Homo sapiens: one gene and its partner. The protein of the gene in region 2 interacts with the protein of the main gene of each other region in a pairwise test. Each region holds a gene or a part of one and is shown on either strand. Other genes may lie near its edges. The genes, in order: KLHL40 and SPMIP4.

Region 1 (2,582 bases), on a different chromosome or scaffold from region 2:
GGATCCGCTTTGCCCCCAGAGGAGCTTGCCCAGTGCCTTGGTACCCCACCATGGTGCTATGGGGTGTCAGCCTTGCTCATGATGCCCCCTTGCCTCCCCAGGGTGGGACTCACCTCCAGATGTCATTGAGCTCTGTGGGAACCAGCTCTCCAGACTCCGTCTCCAGTGTGGCAAAGCCACCAATGGCATAGAGGGTACCCACCAGGCTGACCAGGCTGAGTGAGCTACGCTCCTGTGGGAAGGCCTCGAAGGGTGCCCACCTGGGGGTGTGTGAGAAGGTGCATCATTGGGATGCCTCGGCAAGCCCAGTGACTGTCCCTGCCACCCAGCACCCACAGCTCCAACTGCAACCCTTTGCAATCCAAGTCCCAGGCACCCATGCCCCCAACCCCATTCCCCTTCCCTGTCCCTCTGGTCTTCCCTTCCTTCCCCATTCTCTTGCTCCTCCACTTTCCTTTCCTTGTCCTCTTGCCATTCTATCCAACCTGTCCAGCAAAGTCCACCATGGATCTCCCCACTGCCCCTACTCCTCTCCTGAACTAACTCCACCCTCCAACTCACAACCCCAGCCCCTAGCAGGCCCCCAGCCTTGCCCTGGACGCAGTCCTTTTGCCCCTCAGCGGCCCCTGCAGCCCCACCCACCTTGCACACCTGCTCTATCCTTCTTCTCCCTTCACAGCCCAGTTGTTCTCAATGTATCTTCGCTACCCTGGCTCCTGCCTTGGGCCTTAGTCCCATCCTCCAAAACTGACCTTCCTGAGGTCCACAGTCACTGCACACGCACTGAGGTCCTACAGCACACAGCCCTGCTGACGTGACTTTCCTCACCCATCTCTTCGGCCTCACCTTCGTGGCCTCCTTCCTGGATAATGCAGCTGCCTCCACCATCAGGGCTTGGACCTCAGCTCCTCCCATTTACACTCTCTCTCCTGAGGGAGCTTGGCCCCTCCGTGTGCTACTGACCCCCAGATCTCTCCCTCCAGCTCAGCCCTCTCTCTCCCGGGTGGGGTCCTTTTGGACACCCCCAGGTACTTCAAGTCCACATGTCCTAACTGGACCCTCACTTTCCCTACCCAATCCCAATGATTATCCAGTAAATGGCCTCCCACCCTCACTCAGAAGCATGTACTTCTCCCCCTCTCACCCCCACATCCAATCAATAGCTAAGCCCTGTTTCTCCCACCTCCTAGACTCTTGCTACTCAAAGTGTGGTTCATGGCCCAGCAGCGTCAGCATCTCCTGGGGGTGCGTTAGAAATGCAGACTTACAGGCTTTCAGCCCTCCGCATACCGAGAATCAGAATCTGCACTTTAAGGCGATCCCCAGGAGATTTGCATGCCCATCACAGTGTAAGAAGCCCTGGCCTGTCTTTGTCCGGTGCATCCCCTCAACCCCATCTCCGCTGTGCCCCCAGCTCCAGGCCTTTATCACCCCTGACCTTCCTGACCCCTGGGAAATCCCTAATCTGCTCTCTATATCAGTTGCCATGAAGTACTTTAGTAGAACACAGATGAGATACAGTCCCTCTCCTGCTGGCCCCCGCTCCAGCCCCAGCACCGCCATCCCAACTCCATCACCCACCCACCTCCACCCAGCTGGAGCAACACCTTCCCTCCTATAGGCCTTGAGTTTTTTCTCCAAACTGCCTCAGCACCACCTTTCCTTAGTCTGGGGCAACCTCCTCCCACCACCCTCACCCCTTTTGCGAGCTGAGTCCAACTGTCTCTCAGTTCAGTTTTCTCTTTTCTGATGTCCCAGGCAGGGCAGCTTCTGTCTTGTTCACTGCTATATCCCTTGCACCAGGCCATTGCCTGGTATGAGTCCCTGAATGAGGAACCTGGCATCCCCTCCCCCAGCCCTGGGAGCCCCCTCCTGCAGACCAGGCTGGCCATAACCCTTGCCCCGCCTCCCCACCTCACTGCTGATCAGGAGAGAAAGCCTATTTCTATACTGATGTCCAAAGTCAACACTGGAGACCCAAGACAGGGACTGCAGCTCCTGCTGGGGCTGACAGAAGCCCAAAGCCATGCAGTTGTCCTTGGCGGAAGGGACAAGCTTTCATACTTGTTGTCTGTGATGCTGTACACTTCGGCAGAACTGGTCAGCCCTGTGTCGGTGACCCCAGCTGCCACGATAATGCGGCCATCATGGACAGTGGCCCCAAAGAGTGAGCGGGCGGTCTGCATGGGTGCCAGCTCCTTCCACTCAAACTTCTTGGGGTCATAGACGCACATCTTGTTCAGGCACTTCCTGTGGGGTGGAGGGTGGGGATGGGTGGAGAGAAGCAGGAGCCCAGCCACGCCTCCCTGCAATCACCTGCCGGGGCAGCCAGGACAAACCCCTGACAGCCTCTGGGAGATTCTACCTCTGCTCCACAGACTCACTCCAGGCCCAGCCTCACCTGTCACTGCCTTTGCCGCCAATTACGTAGACAAGGTCCATGTGGGAGAGCACTGTGTGGCCATACACCACGTAAGGCAGCGGGTCCGATTCACCCCATTTGAATGACCTGGAGGAGACGGGAGTGGGGGTGGGGGAGGGCACCCATCCAGGCTCGGCTCAGTCCCTGTCTCTGCACCCAT
Region 2 (3,828 bases):
CATGACACCTCAGACCAGTGTTTCTCAAAGCATAGCAAATCTCCAGCCTCACCATCACCTGAAATGCTCGTTGAAAATTCAGCTTCCATATATTTACATGCAAATCTGTGTATGGACATATGTTTTTGTTTTGGGAGAGTAGTTATATGATTTTAGGAAACTTCAAAACCATTTTTCAAAGTGGCTGTAACTCTTTACATTCCAACCAGAAATGTATGAGGGTTTTTATTACTCAACATAAATGCCAACAGTTATTTATTTCTCTCTTTTTGATTATACGGTGACTGTGGAGTATTAACTCATTGTGGTTATTTTTGGTTTTGTAAATAAATTTTATTAGAACATGGCAACAGTTGCTGGGCACAGTGGCTCAGGCCTGTAATCCTGTCATTTTTGGGAGGCAAAGGCAGGAGGATTGCTTGAGCCTAGTAGTTAGAGACCAGCCTGGGCAACATAACAAGACTCTATCTTCACAAAAAGAAAATAAAAGAACTCAGCAATATTCATTTGTTTATGGATTGTTTATGGTTGATTTTATTCAACAATGGCAGAGTTGCATTGTTACAATGATGATCACATGGTCCACAATGCTTACACTAAATTATGAGCTTATTACTACTTGGCCTTTTACAGAAAAAAGTTTTCTGATCCCTGGAATAGATCAACAAAATTGACAAACTTCTAGTTAGATTGATTAAGAACAAAAGAATACACACATAAATCACAGTTATAATGAATTTTTTTAAAAGATTATCATTACATATTCTCCAGGCATTAAAAAGATCATAACTTAAAATTGACAAGTGTCCTTAAAAAGTGGTCCTCCCAAAATTGGCATGAGAAGATAAAGAAAATCTGAATAGTCCTATACATAATAATAAATTGAATTTATCAAAAACCCTCCTAAAATGGAAAGTCTAGACCCAAGTGGTTTTACTGGTAAATCTTTTCTAATCTTCAAGGAGAAATAACACCAATCTTACACAAGATTTTTAGAATGTAAGGAAGGTTAAATTACCCCATATTATGGGTAATCTCTTTTGTTGAAGTTGTAGCATAATCCCAAGTACCTCAGAATGTGACCTTATTTGGAAATAGGGTCATTTCCAAGGTAATCAAGTTAAAATGAGGTCATGAGGGTGAATTTAATCCAATCTAACTGGTGTTCTTATAAAAAGAAAATTTAGAGGTAGACATGCTGCAGAGAGAATGTCTTGTGAACATGAAAGCAGACAGTGGGGTCATGCCTCTACAAGCCAAGGGACACTAAAGATTTCCATTAAACCACCCAGAATCTTGGGAAGAGGCAGGAATCAGATTTTTCTTCACAACCCTCAGAAGAAACCAACCCTGCCAATACACTGAGGCTGAACTTCCAGAACTATGAGACAATAAATTTCTATTGTTGAAGCCACCCAGTTTGTGGTACCTCATTATGGCAGCGCTAGCAAATTAATACACTCCGCAACTTGTTTCATGAGGTTCGCATTACTCTAATACTGTCAAAACCTGCCAAAACCATAAGAGAATGAAAACCAAAGAGAAAGGAAAGAAAAAAGAAAAAATAAAAAAAAAAAAAAAAAAGAAAATTCAGCTTCCTGGGGCCCACTACAGGCCTTCTGACCCACAGTCTTGGAGGGTCTTAGGAGTCAGGAATCTCCTGCCAGCTCTGCAGATGATTCTGACTCAGCCAAGGTTTAAGGGCACTTGCTAAGGCCTAATAAAGGAGACTTTGGCTGAGATTAAATAACTGCACACGCGGCTAATGCCATCTGTTAGTGATGGACAGAAGTTTTATTCCAGTGATTGCTTTATATCTTTGAAGTTTAAAAGCAGAGTTCCCACACAGAAAGAGTTCTGTATAGCCAAATAAAAAACATGCCCCTTTCATACTCTCTAAAACCAGTAAAGGAGGAAAATGTATTTGGACCCAAATTTCAATGTCTTTAAATTAGTATCAAAGAGCATTGCAATGTACACTCCTATGCCCATCTCGTGTACTCAGACAATGAAAATGGGTATGACTTTTGACCTACCATTTGTGGCAATATCCCTGATCAATTTTTTTCTCCTTTTTATCCCACAACTACAGCAAGAAAAATTCCACCCTGTCTTCAAACCTCCCAGACCGTTGGAAGGACGAATTGCCCGATTAATTCAGAACCGACGTTCTCTGGAGGCTATAGTCCAGCAAAGACCACGTTCCTGTCCAGATTGTACTCCTAGAGTTTTGTGTAATTTTCATACCTTTGTACCCAGTTCTAAAGAAATGGTGGCACTTAGTGATAACATACCAGCCGGTGTGACCCATAAAAACCAGGATATTGAAGAGAAGATCATAGAAGAACAGAGCTTGCTGTCTACCTATGAACTCCCATCTTGTTACCCAACAAAAGACCTAACTAGCATTTATGACATAAAGCCATTTCCAAAAATCACAGATACTAAAAAGACAGAAGATTTATACTGGAGACAGCAGTCACTAAAAACCCAACCCACACCTTACTGTAAACCAGACCACTGGATTCACTATGAAAATCTTAAATCTCCCCTACGTGATCAGTATAATATGTGTCCAGACCCTGTTAGCCTTAGTAAACCTAGTGTTTTACAAAATAAACAAGACACGGAAGCTTTCACTTTAGAACATTTTTTAAGTAAGCCAGAAGAAGAGTTGTTCTTGAATATGGAAAACAATGAAGAAACAAGACCTGTTCTTGGTTGGATTCCTAGAGCTGGAGTGACCAAACCTCAGACCAACCTGCTGGAGCTTAAGAACTCTTTTTCAAAAACTGGTGCACAAAAGCGTTTCCATAAATCAATTCTAGAAGACCATAAAGACCTCAGGGATAATGAGCATTCGGGGATGAAGCACCAATTCTATGGCCATAATTCCTATTATTTCTATAATTGAGATACTCATTCTTCCCTTCAAAACCCAGCCTCTTGCAAGAAGCTAAAAAATATAACAGAATTTCCTTCGTATTGCTGGATTCTGTTTTCTAGATTAAACCACAAGGACCTTGTTAGTGAGGTTTACATTTTCAGGAATTTAAGTTAGTATCTGGTTGGAGGAACCCAGAAAAGGTGATGTTATGACTTCTTGAAAAGTTTAACAATTTGGCAATAAAATATTAGAACTAGAAAAATTTATAGTCTTTAATCTCTCATCTTCAGATTATACAAGGAAATTTTCCAAAATCACAAAAAGCAATGTGTACAACAAAGTTTACATCATTGTTTCACCAAAAAAAATTGAAAAGCTGGAAAGAACTCAAATGATCAATAATTAATGAATGACTATACAAATTATAGTATCTTAATAAAAATGAGAACACTGTCCCTTTATGTAAATTTTTGTACATAGTAGCATTAGGTAGAAAAGACAAAACCCAAACACCTAGTTAATTGAGGGATGGACACCTCTAAAAACTATATTGTCTTAAAAGTATGTGGACTCTGTTCCTTTATGTAAACATGTAAAGAAAATAAGTCAGCGAAAAAAATGAAACCCAAAACTCTCTGCATGTACACATTACAAATTGAATTGTTTGCTTACCCTTAACCTTCTGATTGAGAAACATAACTGTTTCTTTTATGCAGATAAAATTATTTTACTGAAGATCTAGCAATGGCCTTAATTAGCAACTGGTGAGTTCTAATTATAGCAAGAAAGGATGGCTTGGTATCAGTTATTACAGAGCCCCAAATCTTCATTTCTGGAGTGTGTTCTCTAAGAGTTTGGCTAACTCCCATATGCAAGTCAATTCATTTAATGTGCCAAGAGGTAGATTTTAAACATAGTCTATCGTGGAAGTTCAAGAGGAA

What was found.
Region 1: the proteins of SPMIP4 (region 2) and KLHL40 interact in a two-hybrid assay, tested with the Homo sapiens proteins (2 studies listed by BioGRID and IntAct).

The regions. Positions count from the first base shown.
Region 1 is NC_000003.12:42,688,537-42,691,118, reverse strand, and holds part of KLHL40 (kelch-like protein 40), read right to left. Parts: intron 2,510-2,582; coding exon 2,402-2,509; intron 2,251-2,401; coding exon 2,065-2,250; intron 261-2,064; coding exon 114-260; intron 1-113. UniProt on the Homo sapiens protein: Substrate-specific adapter of a BCR (BTB-CUL3-RBX1) E3 ubiquitin ligase complex that acts as a key regulator of skeletal muscle development.
Region 2 is NC_000007.14:25,135,058-25,138,885, reverse strand, and holds part of SPMIP4 (sperm-associated microtubule inner protein 4), read left to right. Parts: intron 1-2,092; coding exon 2,093-2,914; 3' UTR 2,915-3,828. UniProt on the Homo sapiens protein: Microtubule inner protein (MIP) part of the dynein-decorated doublet microtubules (DMTs) in flagellum axoneme. May serve to reinforce and thus stabilize the microtubule structure in the sperm flagella.